Homo sapiens: one gene and its partners. The protein of the gene in region 3 interacts with the protein of the main gene of each other region in a biochemical or structural test. Each region holds a gene or a part of one and is shown on either strand. Other genes may lie near its edges.

Evidence for each region.
Region 1: the proteins of DNM2 (region 3) and PSTPIP1 form a complex in vitro, tested with the Homo sapiens proteins (one study listed by BioGRID).
Region 2: the proteins of DNM2 (region 3) and SH3GL2 interact in a biophysical measurement, tested with the Homo sapiens proteins (2 studies listed by BioGRID and IntAct, with this or other methods).
Region 4: the proteins of DNM2 (region 3) and TRIP10 form a complex in vitro, tested with the Homo sapiens proteins (one study listed by BioGRID).

Annotation. Positions count from the first base shown.
Region 1 is NC_000015.10:77,033,109-77,037,984, forward strand, and holds the end of PSTPIP1 (proline-serine-threonine phosphatase-interacting protein 1), read left to right. Parts: intron 1-2,399; coding exon 2,400-2,455; intron 2,456-2,693; coding exon 2,694-2,827; intron 2,828-3,936; coding exon 3,937-4,068; 3' UTR 4,069-4,367; downstream 4,368-4,876. UniProt on the Homo sapiens protein: Involved in regulation of the actin cytoskeleton. May regulate WAS actin-bundling activity. Bridges the interaction between ABL1 and PTPN18 leading to ABL1 dephosphorylation.
Region 2 is NC_000009.12:17,574,429-17,582,081, forward strand, and holds the start of SH3GL2 (endophilin-A1), read left to right. Parts: upstream 1-4,637; 5' UTR 4,638-4,814; coding exon 4,815-4,859; intron 4,860-7,653. UniProt on the Homo sapiens protein: Implicated in synaptic vesicle endocytosis. May recruit other proteins to membranes with high curvature. Required for BDNF-dependent dendrite outgrowth.
Region 3 is NC_000019.10:10,714,213-10,721,082, reverse strand, and holds the start of DNM2 (dynamin-2), read right to left. Parts: upstream 3,005-6,870; 5' UTR 2,841-3,004; coding exon 2,680-2,840; exon of another isoform or gene 2,580-2,679; intron 1-2,579. UniProt on the Homo sapiens protein: Catalyzes the hydrolysis of GTP and utilizes this energy to mediate vesicle scission at plasma membrane during endocytosis and filament remodeling at many actin structures during organization of the actin cytoskeleton.
Region 4 is NC_000019.10:6,734,966-6,742,690, forward strand, and holds the start of TRIP10 (cdc42-interacting protein 4), read left to right. Parts: upstream 1-4,714; 5' UTR 4,715-4,796; coding exon 4,797-4,820; intron 4,821-6,044; coding exon 6,045-6,160; intron 6,161-6,259; coding exon 6,260-6,316; intron 6,317-7,725. Other genes in the region: protein GPR108 isoform 3 precursor, read right to left, coding at 657-739, 943-993, 1,627-1,746, 2,492-2,611. UniProt on the Homo sapiens protein: Required for translocation of GLUT4 to the plasma membrane in response to insulin signaling. Required to coordinate membrane tubulation with reorganization of the actin cytoskeleton during endocytosis.

The DNA of each region.
Region 1 (4,876 bases), on a different chromosome or scaffold from region 3:
AGGCTCAGTTCAGCCTATGGAACCCTCAGCCCAAGGGACCCAGACACTAGAATAATCACACCCCAATTATTCACTAGGGGAGGTGCTCCGAGCTCTGGGGAGGCCCCTATGCTGGCTTCCTTGTCCCTGGGGCCTCATGTGAGCCTGGTGCCCTGTCAGGCTGCAGTGGCAACGCTGTCTGGCTGGAGCAGGACTGGGGCATCTGGAGAATTCTCCAGGCTTTTCCAGGGCTCCTTCCCCGGCCTGGCTGCAGTCAAGTGCCAAGGTCCTAGTGCTGGGCCTCAATGTGTGACCTGGGCAAGTCATTCACACTCTCTAAGGCCAGGGCCCTGAGTGTTGGGGTCAGATTCAGAATCTAAGGACTCTCCTGGTTCAGGCCTTGAGTGACGAAGGTGACAGCCCATTGGGAGCACTATAGCCAGCTTAGGGAGCCCTCGTAGCCAGGCCTTTGAGGGAGGCCATGTGCCCTGTGAGCATCCACAAGGGTCTGTGGGTTTCACATGGTGCCTGTGCCCCCACCGCCATGCCACCACTCTTCAGCCACCCTTCAACCAAGAAGGCCCTGCCTCTGGGAGGTAGTGGACTGTGGGGAGAGGCTGATGCAGTTCCCGGCCCTTCCCAAGGACCAGCTCATTCCAGGGCCTCAGGAGCCCCTGGAACTTCCTACTCCTGGGAGGCAGAGGCTCGTGGGAACCACCCGTGCTTAGAGAGGGCACACACACACCCTCTTTGAGAATCTTGTGCAAGCAGTGACCCCAGGAGGCAGCACACCCGCAGCCTCACATGCTACAAAAGCTTGTGAGACAGGCTTCCCTGTGCCTGGTGAGGACCTGGATCCCAGCAAAGGTGGTCATTTAAGCAACTGGACAAAAGAGCTCACCTGAAGCAGTATCAGGAAGGGGCAGAAAGGAGTGGCCCCAGAGAGGATTAGAGAGAGAGAGAGAGATGTCCTGCAGGGCCGAGGGAGGCCTGGCTGCTGGAGGGGGCTGGTCAGGCCTCTGGATGGGGCATCTAGAAGCCAGGCAGGACTGGGAAGAGGCGGGGGTCAGTGACTGGGAGTCAGAAGTGTAGACAGTCTGGGGAAAAGAGGTGTGGGGGCACGCAGCACAATGGCTCAGCAAGCCCTGCACCCCTTTCCCCCTGCCCTGGCCGCTTCCTCCACCTGTCCCCAGCCCCTGCTGGCTTGCACCCTGTCCTTTGCTGCCTGGGGAGCTGGCACGTGTGTCTGCCCGCCTGTGTTGGTGTCAGGCCCTCCCATGTGCTGGGTCCACGCATGTCCACCCTGCGCATGTGTGTGCACTCCTGGGGCCTTGGCCCTCGGCGCCTCATGTGGGAAAGGCCCCCCACATGCCACCTTGAATTGCAGGGCTGCCCCCCACAGGCCCCTGAGTCATGGCTCAGCCCCTCACCTGCATTCAAGATCCCTCAGGGTCTGGTCCAGTCTCTATTTCAGTCCTGTCCCCCACACACCCAAATTGGTCCACTCCACTCCACAAACCCCACCTGTGCCATGCCTCCTCCCCTGCACCTGAGCCCTCCCTCTCCTGGTCACCTGCAGTGCCTCGCTCCCCCTTCTCTCCTAGTAAAGCTTCACTCATCTTTGAAGACTCAGCCCCACCCCACTAAGAAGCCCTCTTGCCTTGGAGGCAGTGTCAGCCTCTACTTGTTGAGCCCTCACTACTGCCCACTTCAGGGGGTGCCCCCAGCATCTGCCGCATCTGCCTCTTCTGTTTTATTTTCCTTTATTCAGTAAACCTTCATGACCCCAGCTCAGTCCAGGCCTAAGCCTGGTGCAGGGGCAGGGGTAAAGTAGCCCAGCGCTGTCCCGGAACTCCTGTGAACAGGGTGGCTGAGCTGGCCTGATCACCGTGGGCCCACAGGGAGGAGGGCTGGCTCGGCCCAGGCAGTGGAGGCCTCAGCAGGGCACGTGAGCCAGGCTTTGTGTGGCAGTGCACCCCCCACCCCTACCCATGGGGGAAGCTGCTAGGGCAAGCTAGAGCAGGGGCCTGGAGGGTGAGGACTGGGCATCTTCCCACGAGGCCTCAGTGCGGAGGTCCTAGAACCCCCAAAGGGCCATGGGAGTCTTCCAATGAAGCTACAGCTTCGGGGGTTCTAGGATCCTCCCAAGGGCCCTGCAGGGAGCAGGTGCTGAGATGGCCTGCAGAGGGCGCCAGTGGAGGGCGTAGCTGGGGAAGGAGGAGCCACCAGGACTACTTTCTGGGGAGCCCTCCTGCCTGAGGGGCACCTCATAAATGACATCCATGCCTGGAGGCTAGGGGCAGTCCCAGCCCTGGCAGAGCGCGTGCAGCTCTGAGACCTCTCCCTGTCTAAACCCTCCCTCCTGGTGGGTCCCTGAGTGTGGGGCGGGGACACTCACCCTCTTTCCTCCCTGTTCCCAGGTTCTCTGGACTGCTGCACGGAAGTCCCAAGACCACTTCGTTGGCAGCTTCTGCTGGTAAAGGGGGTCAGGAGGGGACCCCCAAACACACTGATCCTGGGGGGGAGGAGAGGTCTCCCACATGGCACAGATGGGGCCACTGAGGCCCTCAAGAGGAAGTGTGTGTCCCCCAACAGCAAGTGTGGACAGCAGAAGGAAGAGGCAGGGCCCAGCATGGAGAAACCCCATTCTAGTAGGACTTCCAGGGGCCAGTGTCCCCAGAAGGGGAGGGGTCTATGTCTCACCCTGCTCTTAGCGTCCACAGAGACCCTGACCCCCACCCCCGAGCGGAATGAGGGTGTCTACACAGCCATCGCAGTGCAGGAGATACAGGGAAACCCGGCCTCACCAGCCCAGGAGTACCGGGCGCTCTACGATTATACAGCGCAGGTGAGGCCTCTATACCCCAAACCCACCTGTGCCACCTCCCCTGCACCTGAGAGCTCCCTCTCCCATCCAGTGCCTTGCGTCCTCATCTCTCCTCATGGTTTCACTCATCTTCGAGCATCCTCTCCTCCTCAGGAGGGCACGTGTGCCCGAGTGTGTCCACACTAGCAAGGGTACCTGGGAGTGTGCTTGGATGTGAGCTCTGAGAACAGCACCCAGGGCTTGCGGGGCCTCAGTGTGCATGTACTGACTGGAAGCTGGTGTGCAGCAGGCCTGTGTCTGCCCGGGCCTGTACACAGCACACACGTGGAGCACATGTACCTATGCCGTCCACACAGGCTGGGCGCTGAGTGGTGCACACGTGCGGGGAGCTGGCAGAGCCTGGAGCTGCCTGCAGGTCATAGCTTGAGGGCCAGGCTCTGTGCCTTTGGGTCAGGGCCCTGTCCTTCGTGGCCATGGGTGTGGAAAACTGTGGCCAGAATGAGTCTTGCTATCGTGCCAGGATTGATTTTCTGATGTCCATAGGGTGAGGATGAACCAAGGCAGCCACAGGGCAGCTATGAGAGTCCTTTCTGCTCCCTGCTTGAGGGGAAGAATGCATAGCCAGACCTCACATCCACCTGGACTGAGGCCAAGCACCCCCACATAGCCAGGCAGGCTGGGTGTGGACTCCACTGATGAGGCCAGGGCTCGGGGAGGCAGGGAAGCCAGGCCAGGAGAGTGATGGGGTACTTGGATGGCAGTGGCTAGCTGGGGCTGGGGACCGCAAAGGGGAGGCTTGTGGTAAGCTTAGGCATGAGTGTGCCCTGGGCTTGGGGTATGATGAGCACCCGTGACCCCTGACATGCTCCAGTCACTGCGTCTCCAGAATGGGAGAGGGGAGGTGAGGCTGGGAAGAAACCCAGGTTGGGGGAGAACTATGATGACAAACTGAGGGGGATGGGAGGCCCGGTCCGTTGGGTTACCCCCATCCTGTGTCCCCAAGGGGCTGCCCCTGCCCACCCTGGGAGACATGCCGCATTTACTGCTGGGTGGGGGAACGCCAGGCCCCTCCCTGCAGGCCCTTCCCTGCAGGCCCTTCCAACGTCATGCGCTTTCAATCTCTTGGCCAGAACCCAGATGAGCTGGACCTGTCCGCGGGAGACATCCTGGAGGTGATCCTGGAAGGGGAGGATGGCTGGTGGACTGTGGAGAGGAACGGGCAGCGTGGCTTCGTCCCTGGTTCCTACCTGGAGAAGCTTTGAGGAAGGGCCAGGAGCCCCTTCGGACCTGCCCTGCCAGTGGAGCCAGCAGTGCCCCCAGCACTGTCCCCACCTTGCTAGGGCCCAGAACCAAGCGTCCCCCAGCCCCGAGAGGGAGCCTGTCGTCTCCCAGGGAATAAAGGAGTGCGTTCTGTTCTCCTTGGTGTGCTGGGGTCCCGTTCTCTTTTTCTCCTGCTCCAGTGTCCGAGTGCTCAGTTCAGAGGAGGCAAAGGAACAAGGGAAGGAGCCTGGATGTGGAGCTCCCCAACTCAGCCGAGGCTTCAGCTATAGTTGGAGAAGAGGCCTGGCCCCAGTTGCTAGGAGCTCCCAGACTGCCAAGGAGACACATTCACACCTGGACAGAGGACACAGGGGTGCAGGAGGATGTGGCAGGGGCAAGAAGGGGCTCAGCAGGGCTGCAATGGGGAGAGCAGGCTTCTTGGGGGCGGAGGGTTGAGCAGGTCCATGGCTGGGCAGCAGTGGCCAGGCCAGGGCAAGTGCGTGGGCAAAGGTGAGGTTGGGGGTACACCCAGGAATATTCGGAGGACTCAGTTTGGAAACAGGAAGCTGGTGATGGATCTGTTGGAGAGGCCATGGTGGGAGCCCAGGAAGACAGGCTTGTGGCTTGTGGGTGCAAGTGGGGCCTGGGGAAGCCACTGCTGCCCATGACACTCCCCTCAACATGGCAACCCCGGCCGAGCAGGGGTCCACAGCCCAGGCACGTTGGCCCCGGGCACAGAGGGAGCTGTTCTTGAAGGCCTTCAGCCCCTTCTCTTTTTAGTCCCAGGAACATAACTTTCACTGCTGGCCA
Region 2 (7,653 bases), on a different chromosome or scaffold from region 3:
GGGAAAGACTTCAAAGGAAAAACACTGCAAATGGGCACTGGAGGTGGCAGGATTTTGTGGGGAAGTCAGAACTATTTCAATCTGCAATGGAAATAGTGATGATGGTACAGATGAAGAGTCTAACATGAGTCACCCACTTGGTTAAGCACTTTCTTCTCCTCTGTGATTGGGTTAAAAGGGTTTATCTAAGTGAAAAGGAAGTTTTTGCAGGGAGAGGCCCCTGTACTTTGGGGGGAGGAGGGCTATATGGGAGAGAAGGAAAGGTGGGAAAGGTGGCCATCCCCGGCAGAAAGACCCACACATCCACTTCAAAAGAGGTTAAAAAAAAATGCTTCTCTCTGTGTATCTGTTGGAGAGTGGGTGGTAGGTGACAAAACTGGAAGCAAGGAAACAAAGATGGTCTTTCCCTTGATTTCTCATCTCTAGGAAAGGGCGTGTTAGCCCTGCCTGAGCTAGGTGGGTGTTCAATGCTACTGGGGCGCATCCAAAGGCACAAAATCTTATGTTAAGCGCCACTCACCCTGGAAAAACTGGGTCCTGCGCAATCGAGGTTTTAGTATCTGGTGAAGGCTTTTGAACATCAGATCCAATGTGGTCAGAAGAAAGCATCAGTGTCAATGATACATTGTTCATTCTTTTATTCATTCATTCATTCATTCAAACCTCTTCTATTTATTAACACTGACTAGAGGCTCTACCCTGAATTGAGGCTAAAGGCTGGAGTAGAAAAAGTAAGGATAAGTCACTTCCCTTCATTGCCTCTGTTTTCCTATCTCTAAAATAAGAAGTTGGAGTTTAATGCCTTTGCTTTGCAATGTTTCTTATGCTTAACGAGCTTACACATGAAGTCAGGAGTAGTTTGCCCCGGTATGAGCCAGAGGCACAGAGACAGGGGTTGAAGCTCAGAAAGATGAATGCTGCTGCTTTTCCTCTGCCTCCTTGAAGCTAGGGACCCTCTGAAAGGTGCCAGGGATGCAGCAGCTCTGTGCAAATGAGAGGTCTGGTATTTGCCAGAAGCTTTACCATAATGCAAGGAGAAATAGTGCATGAATGATGTGATGGGATTATTGCTGACCACGAATTTACTGCCCAATTAGTGAGGTGATATTTTGTGGGGGTTTCATTTAATTGGGACTTTCCTGAGCAGATCTAGGTTTATTTAACAGTTTACATTGATTTTTATCTCGGGAGACTAGGGCAGCATGCTGAATTACCACAACCTTTTACCAAACAAAGCTCTTCCTCGTTGACTTTTGATTCCCCTTTCCCTGCATTGTGCTTCTGCATTTCTCTCCAAAGCCTCTGTTGAAGATTCTTTGCAACCAAAGATGGCATCCATGCTTAGAATTGTTCAGTGTCTGGGGTATTTGTTCCTCTGTATTCAAGTAACAATAAATGTCCCTAGGAAGATTTTTTTTTCAAATTACTCGTCTGGAAACCCCTTGGGATTCAAGGTCCAGCCCATACATGCCTCGATACTTCCCCTTCTCAATCCCAGCATCTCCTACCATGATGCTTGCTAGTAGGAGGAGCTTAACAAATTTCTTCAAAGGTGACATCTCAAAGGTCTTTACAGGCATAAATTGTGGCTTCAATACAAATGCTGGGTTTAGATGATGTATCAGTCTGTTTTTACGCTGCTGATAAAGACATACCTGAGACTGGGCAATTTACAAAAGAAAGAAGTTTAATTGGATTCACAGTTCCACCTGGCTGGGGAGGCCTGACAATCATGGCAGAAGGTGAAAGGCACCTCTCACATGGCAGCAGACAAGAGAAGAGAGCTTGTGCAGGGAAACTCCTGTTTGTTTTTTTTTTCTTTTATTATTATATTTTAAGTTTTAGGGTACATGTGCACATTGTGCAGGTTAGTTACATATGTATACATGTGCCATGCTGGTGTGCTGCACCCATTAACTCGTCATCTAGCATTAGGTTTATCTCCCAGTGCTATCCCTCCCCCCTCCCCCCACCCCACAACAGTCCCCAGAGTGTGATGTTCCCCTTCCTGTGTCCATGTGATCTCATTGTTCAATTCCCACCTATGAGTGAGAATATGCGGTGTTTGGTTTTTTGTTCTTGCGATAGTTTACTGAGAATGATGATTTCCAATTTCATCCATGTCCCTACAAAGGACATGAACTCATCATTTTTTATGGCTGCATAGTATTCCATGGTGTATATGTGCCACATTTTCTTAATCCAGTCTATCATTGTTGGACATTTGGGTTGGTTCCAAGTCTTTGCTATTGTGAATAATGCCGCAATAAACATACGTGTGCATGTGTCTTTATAGCAGCATGATTTATAGTCCTTTGGGTATATACCCAGTAATGGGATGGCTGGGTCAAATGGTATTTCTAGTTCTAGATCCCTGAGGAATCGCCACACTGACTTCCACAATGGTTGAACTAGACACTCCTGTTTTTAAAACCATCAGATCTTGTAAGACTCATTCACTACCACGAGAACAGTGTAGGAAAGACCCACCCCCATAATTCAATCACTCCCACTGGGTTCCTCCCACGACACGTGGGAATTGTGAGAGTTACAATTCAAGATGAGATTTGGGTGGGGACACAGCCAAACCATATAAGATGAGGTGCAGAGGATGCCTGGGCGACTAAATCAATGGTTTCCAAAGGATTTAATGTAATGCCCTTAAGTAGTTTTTTTCTCCCAAGGTAGTTTCTTTGAAGTTAAGCAGCATGAGACTTCCAGGTTGGTGGATGAAGAACCAGGGAAAGATAGAAACTGCCTTTTTTATAATGTAGGGCTCAGTTAAGTATTCAAAGTTCCAAGGAGGCAATTCAGGCCCCCATTTCACACCTTTCACTGTTAGAGAGCAGAGCTCCTATCCATCCCAGGCCCTTCCACTTTGTAGATCAATTGCTCTATCTTTTGGCAGCTTCAACAAAGCCCTGTCTTATGAAAATGCTTTATTGTTCAGATCAGGGACCTGGTAGTAAAAATTAACTATAAAATACTTTTTTTTCTATTATGCAAGTAATGGGTAGCCTTTTTAAAAATTGGAAACATAGAGAAAAAAGTTTATTCCTAACAACCGGAGCCTCAGTGGATTAAAATTACTCAGGTTTCTCACTGATGCTACATGCCCATTGAACGTCAGGTGGGGACTCTGCACTGCTTTAGTCTCACTCTGGATACTGGCTGACAGACCACAGCTTTCTAGAATATTGCGGCCGAGGAAAAGAAAGCTTTGCGGCATCTCATACATCTCATATTGCTGCTGCAGAAGTGACAGTCACTTTTCCTCTTAAACCTCTAGTCAAAACTTGTAACCATGCCTCCACTTAACAAGAGGTTTGGAAAGTGCAATTCTGCCATGTAGGGAAAGGTATATGAACAGTGGTAAGGGCTACCACACTGGAGAATAGCTCCTTTCATCTGCCTCCCTTTGCAGCCTGCGTCCCTAGTCCATGCGCTCTACTGCTCCAGTGCCCACCACTGCTTGACTCTGCCTTTGTGTGTGTCAGTTCACATTATCAAGAAGGACCATGACTGGTAGCTCTACGGATGGAGGACCCTTTTGTAGCAGGTGTTCACCCTGTGCCCAAGCCGCAGTGCCTAGAAGAGTGGGGATGGGTCTGTGGCTCCTATCAGGCTGCAGGAGTTGCGGAGACAGAAAAAGTATTTCTAGGACTCCCATTTGGCCTTGCAGTCTCTACACATCCTTGGCAATTTCTCCCATCTTGGCTTCTCCTTCTTATCACTTTGGTCCACATACGGGGACAGCGTCTAAGTTCTTTCTGACCACCTCCTCAGTCCTAGAAAAACCAGACTTGGTTAAGTACCAGAGCACAGAAGGCATTTAGTGCTGCTCTGCTCCCAAGTCATCTATTAGTTTCACTTTAGCCAGCCATACCTCCTTGGTTACATATGAAGCATCTGTATATAACTTAGTATCATGCTTTTTCACATTATATTTTGATTTTTATCGGACCGGAAACCCTAAATCCACAAGCATAACAACAAGATCACATTTGGGCTTTTTCATTTCTGTAACCAGAGGATTGAACGCTAGTTTTGTAGTAAGACTTCAATTCTATTTATCCGTCCAGGCTTAAGGGTTCCTGTTCTTCTTTTTAAGTCATTAAATTGTATCAGACAAGGGGGAAAACGCGTGTGTGACTTTCCCTAAGGTAAGATGGGCTTAAGGGATATTGAAACCAGGGCAGAGAAATGTTTTCTGTGACCCACCAGTCAGGGCAAGGCATAGAAGGAGCAATGACTTATTCATTAGCCCAGATAGAAGGCCAGTCTTTTTCAGGCTGCGGCGCAGAGACGCCAGGCTCAAAGGGCAGGAGGGCCGTCTGCAGGCAGCGCCGCCGCGGCTACCTGGAAGCCCAGCAAGTCACCTGAGTCCTGCGGGTGCCTGGGCTGCCAATCTGCAGCGACCCGTCCGCAGCCCCCGGGGGCAGGAACACCAACCCCGGGACAGGAGGACGTCCTCGGCCCGCTGACTAGGGATCCGCCAGCGGGTGCCGCTGAGCCACATCCCCGCAGTTGGCGCCAGCATCCAGGTACCGCGCGCCACAGCACCTGCCTGGGCGTTCCCGCGCTTGGGGCGGGGCTTCCCGCGTCCCCTTTAAGAGGCCGCATCACCCGCCCTTGACGTCAGAGTGTTTCTCCGCAAGAGCCCGTGTCCCGCTAGGCTCCGCGCCCTCGCGCCCATAGCCCCGGCGGCGGCACGACCAGAGGCGGCCAGGGGAGCGCGCCGCCCCGCTCGGCCCTCCAGTCCCCCTCCGCCTCCTCCCTCCCGCACAGCAGCCGCCAGCGCGGCCTCCTGCACCATGTCGGTGGCCGGCCTCAAGAAGCAGTTCCATAAAGCCACTCAGGTAAGGCGCGCGGCAGGTGCGTCCCGGGGCAGTCCGGGGCGAAGCTGCGAGGGGCGCGCTCGGCGCTGGCCGTCCGGCGGCAGCTTGGGGAGTTCGGCACCGAGCCTCGCCCGCGCCGGCCGCGCCCCGCCTCGCAAGCCAAGGCGGCGGCTCGGGGCATCCCCGGTCTGGGCGTCCACCCTCGGTCCCCCGCCCCCGGCTTGGTGCGCGCTGCCTTCCCGCGGGTCCCCGGCGTCCTGCCTGGTAGCGCTGCTCGCCGCCCCCGCATCATCTCGCGCCCGTGCTGCAGGAAGGGGACCGCGGCTGCACTGCTGCCGCGGCGCGCAGGTGCCTTGGCGGCGCGGTGGGAGATTATGTAAAGTCGCCTCTTCACGGGTGACCTTGCGGAGTCGGTGCACCCGGCTTTCCCGGGATGTGTTGGCATGAGCGGTGGCCGCACTGGGGGTGGCGGGGCGGAGGCCGGCGGTTTGCGCTCCTCTCCCTTACCCTGTTGTCAGAACCCTCCTTCCCCGCCGCCCGCAGGCTCCAGGGGAATGGAAGGCTGGGGTCTTCCTTTAGGGACCCGCATACATTAACTTTTACCTGGAGAACTCGGTCGTGAAACTCCTTTGAGGCCAGGGCATGACAAACAGTCTGCGGGTCTTAAATATTTCCCTAAAACAACCAAATTGTTGAAGACTTAAAATCATCATGTATTTTAAATTGTTTTTAATAAATCTTTGGCATCTTGGATGTGCCCATTTTTCTTTATGGGGTTAATAAGCTGTGACTGTAATAAAACTGATTAATTTAGATTCTAATAATTAAAATCATTGGACTCAAAGAATTTTACATAGGGGCAAGTAAGCGAATACTTACGCTGTGACCTATTTCTTACATAATGTGTGTGATTACTACTTTTTTATCCTTCTGAAATAGGTTCAAATTTATGGGATCTTTAAGGATTTTGATGACTTACCGCGAAATGTTTTTCATGATTTGGTGTTAAATAGTTTTTCATAGGTTAGCCTTAATTAACGAGCTTTCTCATAATTTCTCGGAAGTAGTGAGGTTTTTCCTAGGCTACCACAGTGGCAGCCTTGTTATGAACCACATCCAGAAAAGGTGAGGGTTGTGTTTTACAGAACCTTGGTTAACTTAGGGTGACAGATGCAGCATGTAATTCCCGTCGTGTGTGTGTTTGCACGCATCTGCATCATCTTCATCACACATTCTTGCCTTTATAGAATCAATTATACCTGTCAACTTAGGAAATCAAGAAAAGTAAGACTATTTCTGTAAAAATGTTTCTTAATGTAATTATTTTTGCTTTTCTATTATAATTGGAGTTATCTGTGACCTCTCTGCCAGACATGTTTATGAAAGTAAGTGATTTGTTTGTTGATGTAGTTTGGAAGGCTTCTAATAACTTTATACTGCAAGTTCTTTCAGGTTTACAGAACCAAGCATATGTGCTGCCCAGGAATTCTGTGGCAGGACTTCTTCGATATTACTAACCTTTTTGATTGCTCTACTGGTCACTTCTCTATAGCATATCTCAGCACTGCGTTTACCAACACATCTTTTTTCCACTTGGATTCTAAAGATTTCTTTTGCAAAGCTTAGTGCCCTCAAAGGCAATTAAGAGTCTTGGCTTTGGAGTGGGAAAGGCTAAGGTTTGAATCCTGCCTCTGCTGCTTCTGACCTTGAGAGAGTATTTAACTTCTGAACCTGTCCATGCTGAAGTGATGATAATTTCCGTTGTCTCTTCAGGGTTGAGGTGAAGAGAAACGAGTGTGTAGAACACACGTATAAAGTGTTCAATAAATTATAGTTATTGACATAAAGGATATTTTTATTAGTATAAAATACTATCCCTTATGCTGTGAAGAAGTTACCCAAGCTAGACCTTTTAGTTTTTCCAACTTAAAAAATAGAGCGCTCCATTTCCGCTAAATCTTGAAGTTCTGTGTCGCCCTAAAGTGTAGAAAAAATAATTTAAACTGCGTTAGGAAAGAACTTAAAAGGTTGGAGAAGGTCGGCATGTGATGCGATACGGTTAATGTTTATCACACCGAATCCAAATGCAGAATCACTGCGTCATTGTCTTCCTTTTACTGAAAAGCCTTTTATTTGAAAGGTGAAGCAGCACGTAGTCTCTTATCCATAATTTAGTGTAGCACACTCTTAGAAAGTCTAAGGCACAGGTGACTGTTCTGTGCATATGTATATTTAGGAGAGTATGTAAAGCCCATGTTAATGTTTGCATGTGACAAAAAAATTAGAGAAATAGTCCTGTCCTACTTTTGTAGCCATTTTTTTCCATCAGGTCCGTGAACCTGATGTTATCTACAGAGAAGCTTTAGACCTAGAATTACTTCCTTTTGAGAACTGATGTGCTGGATAATATAGCCTGGGTTTGTTTGTTTGTTTATTTATTTATTCATTTGAGACAAAGTTTGACTCTTGTCGCCCAGGCAGGAGTGCAATGGCGTGATCTCAGCATACTGCAACCTCTGCCTCCTGTGTTCAGGCGATTCTCCTGCCTCAGCCTCCTGAGTAGCTGGGATTATAGGCATGCACTACCACGCTCAGCTAATTTTTGTATTTTTAGTAGAGACAGGGTTTAGCCATGTTAACCAGGCTGGTCTCGAACTCCTGACCTCAGGTGATCTGCCCGCCTCGATTACAGGCTGAGCCCCCGCACCTGGCCTATAGCCTGGGTTTATAAGTGGAAGGAGTCTGTTCACGCAAACGTTTCTTTCTATGGAATTGAGCTTTTTTGCTTGTGTTAGTAAGCGATGATAAATAAAAC
Region 3 (6,870 bases):
CCATGGTAGACAGGAGAGAAAGGCAAGGGGTAGAGGGACTGAGGAGAGGTAAGGATGGGAGAGAGACCCAGGTTCCCAACCCAGAACACCTAACTCCTCACTTTACAGCCTCCAGTGAGAGTGTTCTGCTCAGCTATCTGAGCCTCAGTTTCCTGCTCTGTAAAATGGGGATTATAGCAATGCCTCCCTCATAAGGCTTAAGTGTGTAACGTGAAAGCACTTTCATTCTGGTTAGCTTTTGTCCCTGATAGCAAAGGAACCAGCCAGATAAACAACAATAGCCCCATCCATGTAGACCTACTATGTGCCAGGCAGTGCGTTAGGTAAGTAAGCACTTTTTCTTTTCTTTTTTTGAAACCGGATCTGGTTCTGTCACCCAGGCTGGAGGGTAATGGTGCAATCACGGCTCACTGCAGTCTGGACATCCTGGGCTCAAGCAGTCCTCCCAGGGCCAGCCTCCTGAGTTGCTGGGACTACAGGTGTGGGACTACCACCCTACCTGGCTAATTTTTTTATTTTTTGTAGAATGGCATCTTGTCATGTTACCCAGGCTGGTCTTGGAACTCCTGGGGCGAGGCTTGGTGGCTCACACCTGTAATCCCAGCACTCTGGGAGGCCAAGGCATGAGGATCACTTGAGGTAAGTAGTTTGAGACCAGCCTGGCCAACATGGTGAAACCCCGTCTCTACTAAAAATACAAAAATTAGTTGGGCTTGGTGGTAGACGCCTGTAATCCCAGCTACTCGGGAGGCTGAGGCAGAAGAATGGCCTGAACCTGGGAGGCAGAGGTTGCAGTGAGCCAAGATTGCTCCACTGCACTCCAGACTGGATGACAGAGGGAGACTCTGTCTCAAAAAAAAAAAAAATAAATAAATAAATAAAATAAAATAAACTTGTTTAGGAGAGTCAACCAAGACTTAGAGAGGCCAAGACAACCTGTGCAAGGTCACAAGGCAAGTGAAAGAGACAGAGCTTTGCAAACACCCCCCACCCCCGTCCCAGAAGCCTGGGCAGGCAGGAAGATGGTCACTCAAAGGGGCCCACACCACAGTCCAGCCTGAGATCAGGCCAGGCCCAGCTGGCTGCAAGTCCACACCTTTCCACCACGGTAGACAGAAGGCAATGAGCTAGAGACAAGGTAGCAAAAGAGGAGATTTGTGCTGCTTGGAGCAAAGCCCCAAGGCTCTGGGATGGCAGACACAAGGCCTTACGCCAGCCTAGTGGCCTTGGGTGATCACAGTCCCTTCTGAGCCTCCCAGCTCAGCTAAGGTGGGGATGATAACACAGCCTCCACCCCACTCCTTACTTGGGATTCAAGATGTTGAATCAAGAAGGGACATTATCCCTTGACAATGATAACAACAATAACAATGACAATAATGACAGGAGGAGGATGTTATCATTTGGCAGCCACACCACCACAAATGAGTAGTTCCTGGAATGGAGAAGTGGCCGCCCATCTGGGAGACAAGAAAGGCAAGAGGGGTTGGTGGGAGGGAGAGGTGGCTGCACGGGCTGTTCTCATTCATTTGCTTCCTGAATCCTGGAAACAGCCCCAGAGAGTGGAGTTTGCCCACTGGACAGATGGGCACACCGCGGCTTCTCAAGGCTGTCCAGAGAAGGCTACATCCCAGCGCTAGCCACTGAGGCCTGATCACGCAAGAAGCCCCTTCCCAGGCTCCAAAGGAGGGCCCCCAATTTGTAGGCTGTAGCTGGGAGGCGGGCCCCTGTGTTCTAGCACTCGGAAAGGAATCCTGAAGTAAGGTACCCCCAGAGTCCTCCTTCCAGCTGAGAGGGGAAGTAGGGTCCAAACCTCCTCCTTCAGCTCTGTTCTCCCCTCTACCCTCCTACCACCCCTTTCCAGAGCCGTTGTGCCAGACACTCAGGGGTAGTCATGGGCAGACTAGGAGATGGCCAGACAGACAGAAGAATTCACACGGAAGAGAGGAGCCAGCGCTAGCCAGGAATCAAGCTGTAAGAGTCAGCCAGAGAGAATCAAACAGGGTCCCCTAGGAGTCAGCTAGCCAGTCAGACAGTAGAGGCCAGCTGGTGTCACCCAACAGAGGGACTGCTCAGTGTTAAAGTCTGTGAGGGGCACGGATGGGCGGCCAGACAGCAGAGGTCACCCTGGACAGCTAGCCAGACAGCAGGGGGCTGCCAGGTGGGACTGGACAGATGGACAACCAAATGGTGGTGGCAGGGAGGCTTGCCCAGGACAGAGAGACAGCCAACCAGACGGCGGGGGCAGCTCCAGATACAAGAACAAGCCAGCCAGACCGCAGCGGTCGCCCCAATAGATATCTAGATGGCCGGTTTCACCTCTGATGGACAGCCCGAAAGAGCAGAAGAGGGATCTACCCCAGACCCACGGCCAACCAGATGGCAGACTTCACCCACGAAAGCTGGGACCAGATGGACCGCAGGGTTCCAGCGCACCTCCTGTCCTACGGCGCCCTGGCCCGTGACACCGCCCCTGGGGCCCGGGCCTGCTCCGGAGCCCCTGCAGGGAGTCCTCTGCCCAGGGCGTCCCACAGGGCCCGCCTCCCCGACCCCGTCCGGTTCCCCGCCGCGGGCACGCAAGCGCCGCAGTTACGCCGGCGGCGCACGGCGCGCCATTCCCGGTCCGCCCTCCGCGCCCTAGGCCGCCACCCGCCCGCGATCCCTGCCGCGCCCGCTCACCGGCCCACGAAGTTCTCCAGCACCGAGCTCTTGCCGGCGCTCTGGCCGCCCACTACAGCGATCTGCGGCAGGTCCAGGTGGCAGCTCTGGCCGATGGAGCTGAAGGCGTCCTGCAGTTTGTTGACCAGCGGGATCAGCTCTTCCATCCCGCGGTTGCCCATGGCGCCGGCGGCCCCCGGCCCGAGCGCCCTGCGCTCCTCGCCCGCCGCCGACCCTCAACGACCTGGCCCCGCGGCGTCTGTAGCCGTTGCTCCCCGCCCGCCCGGGCCTCGGCAAGACGCCCGCTCCCGGCTCGGCCTCACGGTCGCCGCCTCATCCGGTTCTCAGGCGACACCCGACCCGAGCGACCTCCCGCCCCGGCCCCGGGGGCTGCGCCCAAAGCACTCGCGCCGCACGCGACTGGCCTGCTGCACCGCCACTCGGATACACTAGCCAATAAAAACTAGGCACGGGCCTATGGTTGAGTAAACCTTCCCCCTGGGGACCGTCTTGCTGACTTATTGGACAAAAGAACCGTCACTGTTGTGCAACAGCCAATAGCGGCAGAAAGCAAGTTGTCAAGAGAGGAAGGGGGTGTTTCCGAAAAAGGCACGTTGGCTCTGCCCATTGGCGAAGTTCCACCATCTTATTGGCAGGCAGACGTGCCAGTAGACAATGTGGACCAATGGTGTTGGGGATTGAGCTACTACCTCGTTCCCTAAGAATTTCCCATTGGTTCATATAAATATCACTTCGTTGCTCCAGCCAACCAGGCAAAAGAGGGCGGGCTTTAACATCCGAATCTTGACTATCATTGAGAACCATATCTGTCAATCAGAAAAACTCCCGTTCTTCCTTGTGATTGTTGGATGTCTGCAACAGCCTTCTGAAGTATAGGATAGATCCCACCGTACTCGCTCAAGGGCGACACCTCGTGGTGGGATCCGATGTCTCGATTTTTGAGTTTCCTGGCACTGGGGAAAACTACAAGTCCCAGAGCGCATCTCAGTTCCCAGACTGCAAACCAGCTCTGGGAGCAGGGTCCCAATGCGCTCTGCAAATGGTAGAGGCCAAGTCATTGCTTCCTAGGGATAGAACGCAATAAAATCACTCCTCCACGCCTTTGCAAATGCTGTGCCCTTTCTGCTCACGCCCGATCTTGACGCCGCTAACACTCCAATGTTTTCCCCCACTTCTTCAACTTTAGCAGATCATGAATCTTTTTTCTTTTCTTTTTTTTGAGGCGGGGTACTCACTCTGTCACCCAGGCTGGAGTGCAGTAGCGCGATCTTGGCTCACTGCAACCTCCGCCTCCCCGGTTCAACCAATTCTCCTGCCTCAGCCTCCCGAATAGCTGGGATTACAAGTGTGAGCCACCACGCCCAGCTAATTTTGTATTTTTAGTAGACGGGGTTTCACCATATTGGCCAGGCTGGTCTCGAACGCCTGGCCTCAAGTGATCCGCCCGTCTTGGCCTCCCAAAGTGTTGGAATTACAGGTGTGAGCCACCGCGTCTAGCTAATGAATCTTCTTTTCTTAGAAACTGGGTCCTTACTCTGTTGCCCAGGCTGGGGTGCAGTAGTGCACTCATAGCTCAATTCAACAAGCACCTGGGCTCAAACGATCCTCCCGCCTCAGCGTCCCGAGTAGCTGGAACCACAGACGTGCGCAACTATGCCCAGCTAATTATTTTTATTTTATTTTTTATAGAGACAGGGTCTTGCTGTGTTGTCCAGGCTGGTCTCAAACTCCTGCGCCCAAACGACCCTCACAGGCCGGCCTCCCAAAAGTGCTGGGATTACATGTGTGAACCCCCCCAACTGGCTTTAGATCTTTTTGAGTACCCACTAAAACTCAACAAATCCTCTCCCCGTGAAAAGACACGCTATTTTGTAGGCAAAATTGGGGTTCTGGGAACTGGAACTCCTGACAGTGGACAGAGACAAATAGGAGGATTTGAAGTGTTTTGACCCCTCTGGAGACAAATAGGCCAGAGACAAGGAAACCCAGTGAGAAGGCAGGAGCAGGTAAGTGCTCTGACCTGAGGCAGCACAAGAAGATGGAGAAAGAGGAGGAGGGTGGCTCATGGCATTTGCCTGTTTTGTGACCCAAAACCCCAGGTCTCAAAGAAATAGGCAAAAAGCGCCAGGTGCGGTGGCTCATGCCTGTAATCCCAGCACTTTGGGAGGCCAAGGAGGGCAGATCACCTGAGGTTAGAGGTTCGAAACCAGCTTGGCTAACATAGTGAAACCACGTTTCTACTAAAAATACAAAAAATTAGCCAGGCGTGGTGGTGCGTGCCTGTAATCCCAGCTACTCGAGAGGCTGAGGCAGGAGAATCGCTTGAACACGGGACGCAGAAGTTGCGGTGAGCTGAGATCGCACCGCTGCACTCCAGCCTGGGCAACAAGAGCAAAACCCCGTCTCAAAAACAAATAAACAAACAAACAAAAACGTTGAGGAAACTCTTCATGTACTGAAGTATAAATAATTTGAGATATACTAAGAGGAAAAAACAAGCAAGGTACAGAACTGTGTGTGAAGGATGCTGACATGCATGAAAACCATATGTACACACGGAAAATTGCTGGAAAAATACATAAATTGATAAAAGTAGTTGCACTTTTGATGTGATTTGAATTGTGGATTACATACATGTATTACTTTTTCACTTTTTTTTTTTTTTGAAACAGAGTCTTGCTCTGTAGCCCAGGCTGGAGTGCAGTGATGCAATCTCAGCTCACTGCAACCTCCGCCTCCCGGGTTCAAATGATTCTCCTGCCTCAGCCTTTCAAGTAGCTGGGACTACAGGCGCCTGCCACCATACCTGGCTAATTTTTGTATTTTTAGTAGAGATGGGGTTTCACCATGTTGGCCAGGCTGGTCTCGAACTCCTGACCCAGATGACCCTCCCTCCTTGGCCTCCCAAAGTGCTGGGATTGCAGGTGTGAGCCACCGCGCTTGGACTTTTTTTTTCTTTTCTTTTCTTTTTTTGAGATGGAGGCTTGCTCTGTCTCCCAGGCTGGAGTACAGTAGTGCGATCTTGGCTCACTGCAACCTCCAAGTCCTGGCTTCAAGCGATATTCCTGCCTCAGCCTCCAGAGTAGCTGGGATTACAGGCACGTGCCACCACACCCAGCTAATTTTTGTATATTTAGTAGAGATGGGGTTTCACCATGTTGGCCAGGCTGGTCTTGAACTCCTGACCTCATGATCTGCCCTCCTTGGCCTCCCAAAGTGCTAGGATTACAGGTGTGAGCCACCACCACGTCCAACCTTTTTTTTTTTTTTTTTAGACGAAATCTCGCTGTCTCTCAGGGTGGCGTGCAGTGGTGCGATCTCGGCTCACTGCCACCTCCACGTCCTGGGTTCAAGTGATTCTCCTGCCTCAGCCTCCAGAGTAGCTGGGATTACAGGTGTGAGCCACTGCACCTGGCCTACTTTTTCCATTTCAAAAACTTCATTTTTGAAGAGCACTGGTTTTTGTTTTTGAGACAGAGTCTCACTCCGCTGCCCAGGCTGGAGTGCAGTGGTGCAATTGCAGCCTCAACCTCCTGGGCTCAAGCAATCCTCCCACCTCAGCTTCCTCAGTAGCTGGGAGCACAGATGCACACCACCTGTATTTTTTGTAAAGAAGGAGTTTCACCGTGTTGCCCAGGCTGGTGAAGATCACTAGCTCTGTAACTGATCATATCTGGGTTAGATCCTGGGCCTGTTTATTTACTGATTATTATGGTCTGAATGTTTATAGACCAGCCCTCTACCCCATCACCCACCACACCAAGATTGACATGATGAAACCTAATCCCCAACATGATGGTAATTGGAGGTGGAGCCTTTGGAAGGCGATTAGGTGATTAGGTGAATGGGATTTGTGCCCTTATGTATTTTTTTTTCTTTTCACAAACCTGCTGAGCTTCTCACTGCGCCTTCATAAAAGAGACCCCAGAGAGCTGCCTTGCCCCTCCCGCCATGTGAGATTAGAGAAAAGATCGCCATCTAGGAAGTTTGCCCTCAACAGACACTGAATCTGCTGGTACCTTGATCTTGAATTTCCCAGCTTCTAGAACTGTGATAAATAAATTTCTGCTGTTTATAAGCCACCCAGTTGATGGTATTTTGTTATATATGGCAGCCAGAACGGACTAAGAAAGTGACAGTGACCATGTAAACTTCATTCCTCTGTGCCTCAGTGTCCTCCTCCGTAAAATG
Region 4 (7,725 bases), 4.0 Mb from region 3:
CACCTCCCCAGCTCAGGAGATCCTCTCACCTCAGCTTCCAGAGTAGCTGGGACTACAGGCGTGCACCACCATGCCTGGCTAATTCCTGTACATTTTTTGGTTTTTTAGTAAAGACAAGGTTTTGCCATGTTGCCCAGGCTGGTCTACAATTCCTGGGCCCAAGCAATCCTTTTGCCTCGGCCTCCCAAATACTGGGATTACAGGCGTAAGCCACTGCCTGGCCCTAAGTATATTATTTAAAAAGAAAACATTTTATCTACAGAAAAGCAACATGGTTTTGTCAGACCCTGGCCCCAGAATCCCAGTTCCTGGGACTCAGTTTTCTTGTCTGAAGAGCGGAGATGATCACAGGATAAGGAATGGGTGAGTTAGTGTATTAAAGCTCCGGGACACCGGAAGCACTCAACATGTGCGAACAATTGTTATTCATTCTCACAACAACCCTCTGTATCCGGGTCTTCTGCCCTGAGACACCAACACCCGCGGAGTCCCTCTCTCCTTCCTTCCAACAATCAGAAGACTTGAAGGCAAAACTAAAAAGTAAGTGGCTTTCTCTCTCTGCTTCTCATCCCACCTGATCAGCCCAGGTGCGTGTGGGCATCACACCAGGGAAACGCAGACGAAGGATCTGAGCGAGCCCCCGGTCCCCAACTCACTGCAGATCCTTGGTGTTGATGAGGAACAGGACCAGGAAACTGCTACTGTTTTTCTGGAGAGGGCAGTCCTGGAAATCCCGGGTCTGGGGGGTGGGCAGGAGGGAGTGAGTCTTGGTTACTCCTCTCCTGGTCCAGCTCCACCCTGTCTCCCTCCCTGTCCACCCACGGGATCTTCCTGCTCCTGCCTCTGACAAAGAACAGGGGCCCTTGGGTTACAGATGCAGAGGACAGACCCTACCCCCTCCCTCCAGCCCCTTCTCCCGTCTTCCCCATGCCCTCCACTCACTGAATAGGAGCGAACTCTGCCAGACCGAACCCGGCTGAGACTGAACCCCACCTGGTGGGTGGAAAAAAAAAGGGGAGGGTGTGAGGGACAGTAGAGACCTCCCAGCTATCCCTTTCAGTAGCAATAGAAACCTAACCTCACATTTACTGAACACCTAACATGTGCTAGATCCCACACGCTCTTTTTCTTTTTTAGAGTTGGGGTGGTGGGTGGACCTCATTCTGTTTCTCAAGCTGGAATACAGTGGCAGGATCATAGCTCACTACAGCCTCGAACTCCCAGGTTCAAACGATCCTCTCACCTCGGCCTCCCGACTGGCTGGGACTACAGGCACACCTCACCACGCCCGGCTAATTTTAAAAACTTTTTGTAGAGACGGGGTTCTCACTATGTTGCCCAGGCTGGTCTTGAACTCCTGGCCTCAGGCAATCCTCCCACCTTGGCCTCCCAAAGTGCTAGGACTACAAAGCCTGAGCCACCGCGCCCCGCCTGTCCCCCAAGTCTTAAGAAAAGTGCCTAGCACATCCTGTGTAAGACATCATTACTCCCAGGTACAGATGACGAAACAGGCTCAGAGAGATGACGGGACTTGTACAAGATCACATGGGTAGCGGCAGAGCTGGGAACCCAGAACCGGGGGATTGCACCGTGCTCTCCTCCAGCAAACTCCTCAAGGTCCCTCACCAGCAGGGACTTCTCTTCTGCCTCCCGGAGGCCCAGCCGCAGGACGCTCAACTCCACCTCCAGAGAGCCATTGGTGTAGAAACCGAAGCTGTTCAGCTGGATGTCCGCTCGCTTCTCCCCCTGCCGGAGACCAAGGAGGCAGAGGCAGTTCAGACCTCTTTCCGCCTGCCCAGCCCCAGGGGTCTGGCACGAGGACCTCCAGAAGGGCCTCCTGGTACCCCTCTATTTAGGACAGGCCCAGAGGATGACAAGAGAAAGTTGAGAGGGACTTCCTCCCTGCAGGGGAAGGGTGGTCCTGCATTCTCCGACCTCTGTTCTGAGAACCCAGGAACAGAGATCCTGCGGCACCTGGAAGTCTCCCCACTGGGGTGAGCACCGCCCGGAGAACAGTTATTCACCTCGGCGTGCCTGACCTTCACCTTCCCGAAGAACTTTTACATTCCAGTTGAGCTCCCAGCAATATTTCAACAGAACCCCCCAAATCCCATTAAGTGCCCAGAGGACCCCACTCTATAGCCCCCCAGGACCCCGCTGTGCGGCTCCAGGGTCTCTAGCGCCCCAAAAGTGATTCCAAGAATTTAAAGGACTAAGACCCAGTTGGGGGGAAGGGGGGTGTAGTCCCCAAGAGATGGAGCCTCGCCCCCGAAGGGAGGGGGCCGACCCCAGCGAGGCGGACCCGGCAACTCCATCCGGAGGACCGAAGGGGATCCCGGGACGAGACCACTCCGGGCCCGGAAACGGGGGGCGCCGGACCACTCCACCGCCTCGGGGACGGGGGAGGGCGGACGAGACCACTCCAAGCCAGGGGGCTTCTCCGAGACAAAGTTGCGCCACCGACCCCAGACCCTCGCGCGGCGGGCCTCACCGTCAGCGCCAGCTGGTGGATGCGCCCGGAGCAGCCACCCAGCAGCAGCACCAGAAGTAGCCGCTGCCCCCACTCCGCGGGGCTCCCGCGGCCGAGCCCCCTCCTCTCGCTCACTGCCATCTCTGGAGCCACCTCCTCCCCGACTCCGCCTCTGGCGCCCAAGCCCGCCCACCGATGAGCCAATCGCCGCACGGCGGGGCCCGGCCTTTCGGAGTTTCCAGTCCGCCAACCAATCAGCAATTGCCTCTCCGCAAGCCCGCCTGCTTGCGTCACCGACGGACAGCACCGGTTCCGAATGGGAGAGCCGATAACGCTTAACCCCCAGCTCACTCTCACCAATCGCTATAAAGATTGTCCGGATGTGATTTAATGAGCAGTTTATCTAACCAATTGTCATGGATCTGATATCCGGCCCTTAAAGCGGAATTTCTCCACCCACTCTTAACTGTCCGGGACTACATTACCCAGAATGCAGCGGGAGCAGACAAGGGCCACAAAGCATTAAATAAACTACCTTTCCCAGTATCCCCAAGGACGGACTTCCTCTTCTTGAGCCAGGGATGTGGCTCCCAGCCAGAGCTGAGGCTTTTGGTAAACACACGCATCTGTTCAGGCCTGACCTGTTTTCCTAATCTTCCTGGTCCACAGAGAGGCCTAAAGCTGGCCTCAGGTTAAAGTTTGACCCTAGGATGACCTATGACCCCAGGCTGAGACCCCAGCCTTAGGCTAAGCCTTTTATTCCAGAGTGAGGCAATTGGAGCCCCACCCCCAGATTCCAGGCTAGACCGGACTCCGGGCTGAACTCTGACCCCAGGTGAACTCCCTCTCTGCAAGTTGAGTCCTAACTTCAGCCTGAAACTCTGACACCCCCTCGTCCCCCACACCACACACTGAGGCTTAATCTCTGGTTTAGGCCACCGATCTGGACTAGCCCTGACTCCAGATTGGACCTGACCCCTTACCGGGTTGCTAATCCTTCTGGTTAAGCCTCTGGCCTCTATCCCCTATCCCCACGGTGGTGCTGACCTGGACTGAACCCCAATTCCAGTTTGAGTCTCTGAGCAGAGGTGAACTCAGAACTTTGCTAGGCTGAGCCCCCATTTGAGACTAGCCACAGAACTCACTGGGTTCAATTGCCCAACTGCAATCAGACATTTTCTAGCTCAGAAGCCACCAGCAGGTGGGGCCAGGTCTCAGCAGAGACATCAGTCCCAGTGTGGGCTCCCAAGGCTCTCCTCCTGGGCTCAGCTGTATCTCTCTGTTCTGGGAGCCTGGGTGCTCTGTGTAAGGGGAACGTATACCCAAGGGCCCCCCTGCAAGACGCCCAGCCTTGTCTGAGGCTGCAGAGAAAGCGCCAAAGCCCGGAGAGAATGGGAGTGGGAATCCCCAGTGCCTCCTCTCCTCTTTCATTCCAGCACCTCAAAGGGATTTACAAGGTGTGAACAGACTTTTATGGGAGAGGTGACAGACTTCCCTTCTCCAGGGCCCAGATGGCCCAGATGTCTGGGGGAGGGGCGGAGTCGGAATCTCAGGGGCAGTACTGAGAATGAAACCAGGTTAAACTGGAAAATGGGCAGATGCAGGCGCGAACTGGAAGGCAGCTGGGGAAAGGCCTGGGCCTGGCGCCCCAAGGACGGCCTGTCTTCAGTTTCCCAGCGGAGACTCTGGGGGAGGGAAGGCAGGATGCGGTGCGGGAGTTAATGGACCTGGCCTTGGCGAAGGCGCGTCCTGGGTTGGATCGAAACCCTCTCATCCGCCCTGTGGCCGGAGGGACCAGACCATTAGTGGGACGAACCTAGACGCCTGGAGCCGGGCCGGCTCGCAAGAACGGGGTGACCTCAGGTTGCCCCTGCAATGGGGTTGAGGAAGGACTTCTTGAGTTTGGGGTTTTAGTGTCTTGGCCCTTTAAGGAATAATTGCGGGGAAAGGGGAAAAGGAGATGGGAAGAACCGTTTGGAGCGGGGAAGGAAGATGAGAGGACGAGAGGGACCCCGGGGATTTGGAAAAAATGGGTGGGGGTTCTTTAAGGGGTCGGTCCAGCGGCGTCGAGTGGCAACGTTGCTTTAAAAGGGGGCGGAGCGTCCGTTGGGCCCCGCCCCCGAATCGCAGTGCTTGGGCTCCGCGCGGGTGGGGGCGTGGCAGAGCGTGCAGGGGGGCGGGGAAGAGTCTGGGGTGGGCGGGGCCGGGCGGGGCGGGGCGGGGCCAGGCGCACCGCCCTCGGCTGAGTCTCCCCGGGGAGGGCGGCGGGCGGCGGGCGGCGGGGACCGGGTGCGGTGGTGGCTGCGGCGGCGGCGGCGGGAGCAGCATGGATTGGGGCACTGAGCTGTGGGTAAGTCCAATCGGCCCGCCTCTAAGTTCCCCTTTGCTGGGGTCCAGGCACCCCCCTTTTGTCCCCAATGTATCTTAGAGGGGGCTCCGCGCCTTTCCCTTCCACCGACCCCTGGGTCCCCGCCCTCCACCCTCCGCTCTCTCTCGAAGTTTATCTGGGAGTCTCAGCACGCTCAGGGGCGAAGGGCGACTTTGCCGGACCGGAGTGGGGAAACTGAGGCACAGGGTTGCGAATGAGGCGGGCAGAAGGAATCCTGGGGCCAGGCCGGGGCGGCTGAGAGAGGTCACCTATTTTGGGCGCCCTGGCCGGGCAGGCGGCTTATCTTACGGCCCCTGGGTCCCTGCCCGTCGTCCGCCTGTCCGGCTAGGAGGGGGGAGGGGACCCTCTGGTCACCCTCATCCCCACCCACGTGGGACCTAGAAGTCCTGACCGCCCTTTCCCTCGCCTTTAATCAACACCTAGGGGCTGGGGACGCTCATGGAGGGGAAGGGGGATGCTAAGCTCGGCCTGATCCCCCTCCCTGGCTTCCCCCTGCTCACCCCAGGCCCAGGGCGGGACCGCCCCCTGGTCGCCTATAACCTCAGCCCTGGAAGCCCCAGAAATTTCCCCCTATCCTAGCCGGACCTCTGACCCCTCCCCTTGCTGGGGGCGGTGGAATCCCTGAGTTCTTAGTGCAGCGGGGGTAACCAGACTGCCACCCCCTCCTCCAATTCTGCGATTTCTTTTGGATGTGTAGTGGGGTCAGTGGGGTAAATTGAGTCACCCATCGGGGGATCCCTGGAAGCAGGGAGATTCAGGGAACCTGGTGCCTGCCCCCTGGCCACTCAGGGGCCCCCAGTCTGCCAGGAACCCTGCCCCTCTGGCCTTGACTCACGCCGGGCCGGCCGGATTTTCCGGAATCCGGGGGGATTAGGGGAGCCCGAGCTGGGGGAGTGGCCCTGTCCCCTTCCACGCCCCTCTTGGCGGTCCTATGTCGGAGACCTCCATCTCCCGGCCGGGGTGGCTGGGGCCTGGGCGCTGTTCTCCGGCCCTTCCCGGGAAGGGGAGGGGGTTCCCGCCAGTTTCCTGCCTCCCCCCGCGCCACGCCGGGGCGGCGCCGGGAAGCCACTCCTTCTAGGAGCGCAGAGCCTTGGCCCTCCCTGGGAGTCTGGTCGGCGGGCTGTGGGGTCCCAAAATCGTGACCCCGGCCCCTCTCCCCTCCTCCCCCACCATGTCCCATGTCAGGATCAGTTCGAGGTGCTCGAGCGCCACACGCAGTGGGGGCTGGACCTGTTGGACAGATATGTAAAGTTCGTGAAAGAACGCACCGAAGTGGAACAGGCTTACGCCAAACAACTGCGGTGAGACCCTGGGGTGGACGCTACGGAGGACGCGCCTGGGGCGACGGGGAGCGGTGGGAGGGCTGCGGGCTCAGCCCTCCTACCTCTGTCTCCCCTTAGGAGCCTGGTGAAAAAATATCTGCCCAAGAGACCTGCCAAGGATGATCCTGAGTCCAAGTAAGGTTGGAGAGGGGCTGCAGGGCTAGATTTGTGGGGAAAGGCGGTGCTTGGGTCTCACTTCCCCTCCCTCAGCTGGGACACCCCACCGCTCCTCTCACTTCCCCTTCTAGAGGTGAGAGCATGGATGCAAGATGCGGGATTATCTGGCTTGGAATCCTGAGTCCACTACTATGTAGAGAAATTGACTTGGGCTTGTGACTCAGGTTTTCTGCCACTATTTTCCTTAACTGTTAAATACAGAGGCCCCAGCAGTTACAAAACCAGTAACTTTGGGCAGATGACTTAAAGTTTTGCGCCTCTGTTTTCCTCATCTGTGAAATGGAATGATGACGATTCCTCCAGCTTTGTAGGGCTTTCATGAACACGAGCTGAGTGAATGTGTTTAAACAGTGTGCAGTCCATATCAAACGCCGTAAGGAGCATTTGACTTGGAATTGAGTCCCCAATTCCAAAATCCAAAAAAGCCCTGGAAATCAAGTTGTTTTGGTCACTTGTTTGGCAGCAATCTCTGACCTGAACTTTTTGTTAATTGTAGTTGTTTTGTTTTGTTTTTGACAGAGTTTCACTCTGTCCCCCAGGCTGGAGTGCAGTGGCGCCATCTCAGCTCACTGCAACTTCCGCCTCCCAGGTTCAAGCGATTCTCCTGCCTCAGCCTCCCTAGTAGCTGGGATTACAGTCACCTGCCACCATGCCCAGCTAATTTTTATATTTTTAGTAGAGACAGGGTTTCACCATGTTAGCCAGGCTGGTAATTGTAGTTTTGACTTTTATCCCACTTAGTGTGAATGTTAACACCTCTCATTGTAAAATTAAAAAAAAAAATAGGGTTGGGCACAGTGGCTCACACCTGTAATCCCACACATTGGGAGGGTGCGCAGGTGGATCACTTGAGGTCAGGAGTTCGAGAGCAGCCTGGTCAACATGGTGAAACCTTGTCTCTTCTAAAAATACAAAAATTAGCCAGGCGTTGTGGTGCGCGCCTGTAATCCCAGCTACTCAGGAGGCTGAGGCATGAGAATCGCTTGAACCCGGGAGGCGGAGGTTGCAGTGAGCCAAGATCGCACCACTGCACTCCAGCCTGGGCGACAGAGTGAGACTCTGTCTCCAAAACAAATAGATACGGTGTTTGATTACAAAATGATGTCCCCAACCCCACTAAGATGATGCAGAAAAGATGGTATAAGCTTTGTACACCATCTTTAAAAACTGGAAAATTCTGTGTTCCAATATACATTCGAGGTCCAGTGCGGTGGCTCACACCTGTACTCCCAGCACTTTGGGAGGGTGAGGCGGGAAGATGCGGAGTTCGGGGGGATTGGAGTTTGAGACCTCATCTGGAAAAAAAAAATTAGCCAGGTGTGGTGGCGTGTGCCTGTGGTCCCAGCTATTTGGGAGCCTGAGGTGGG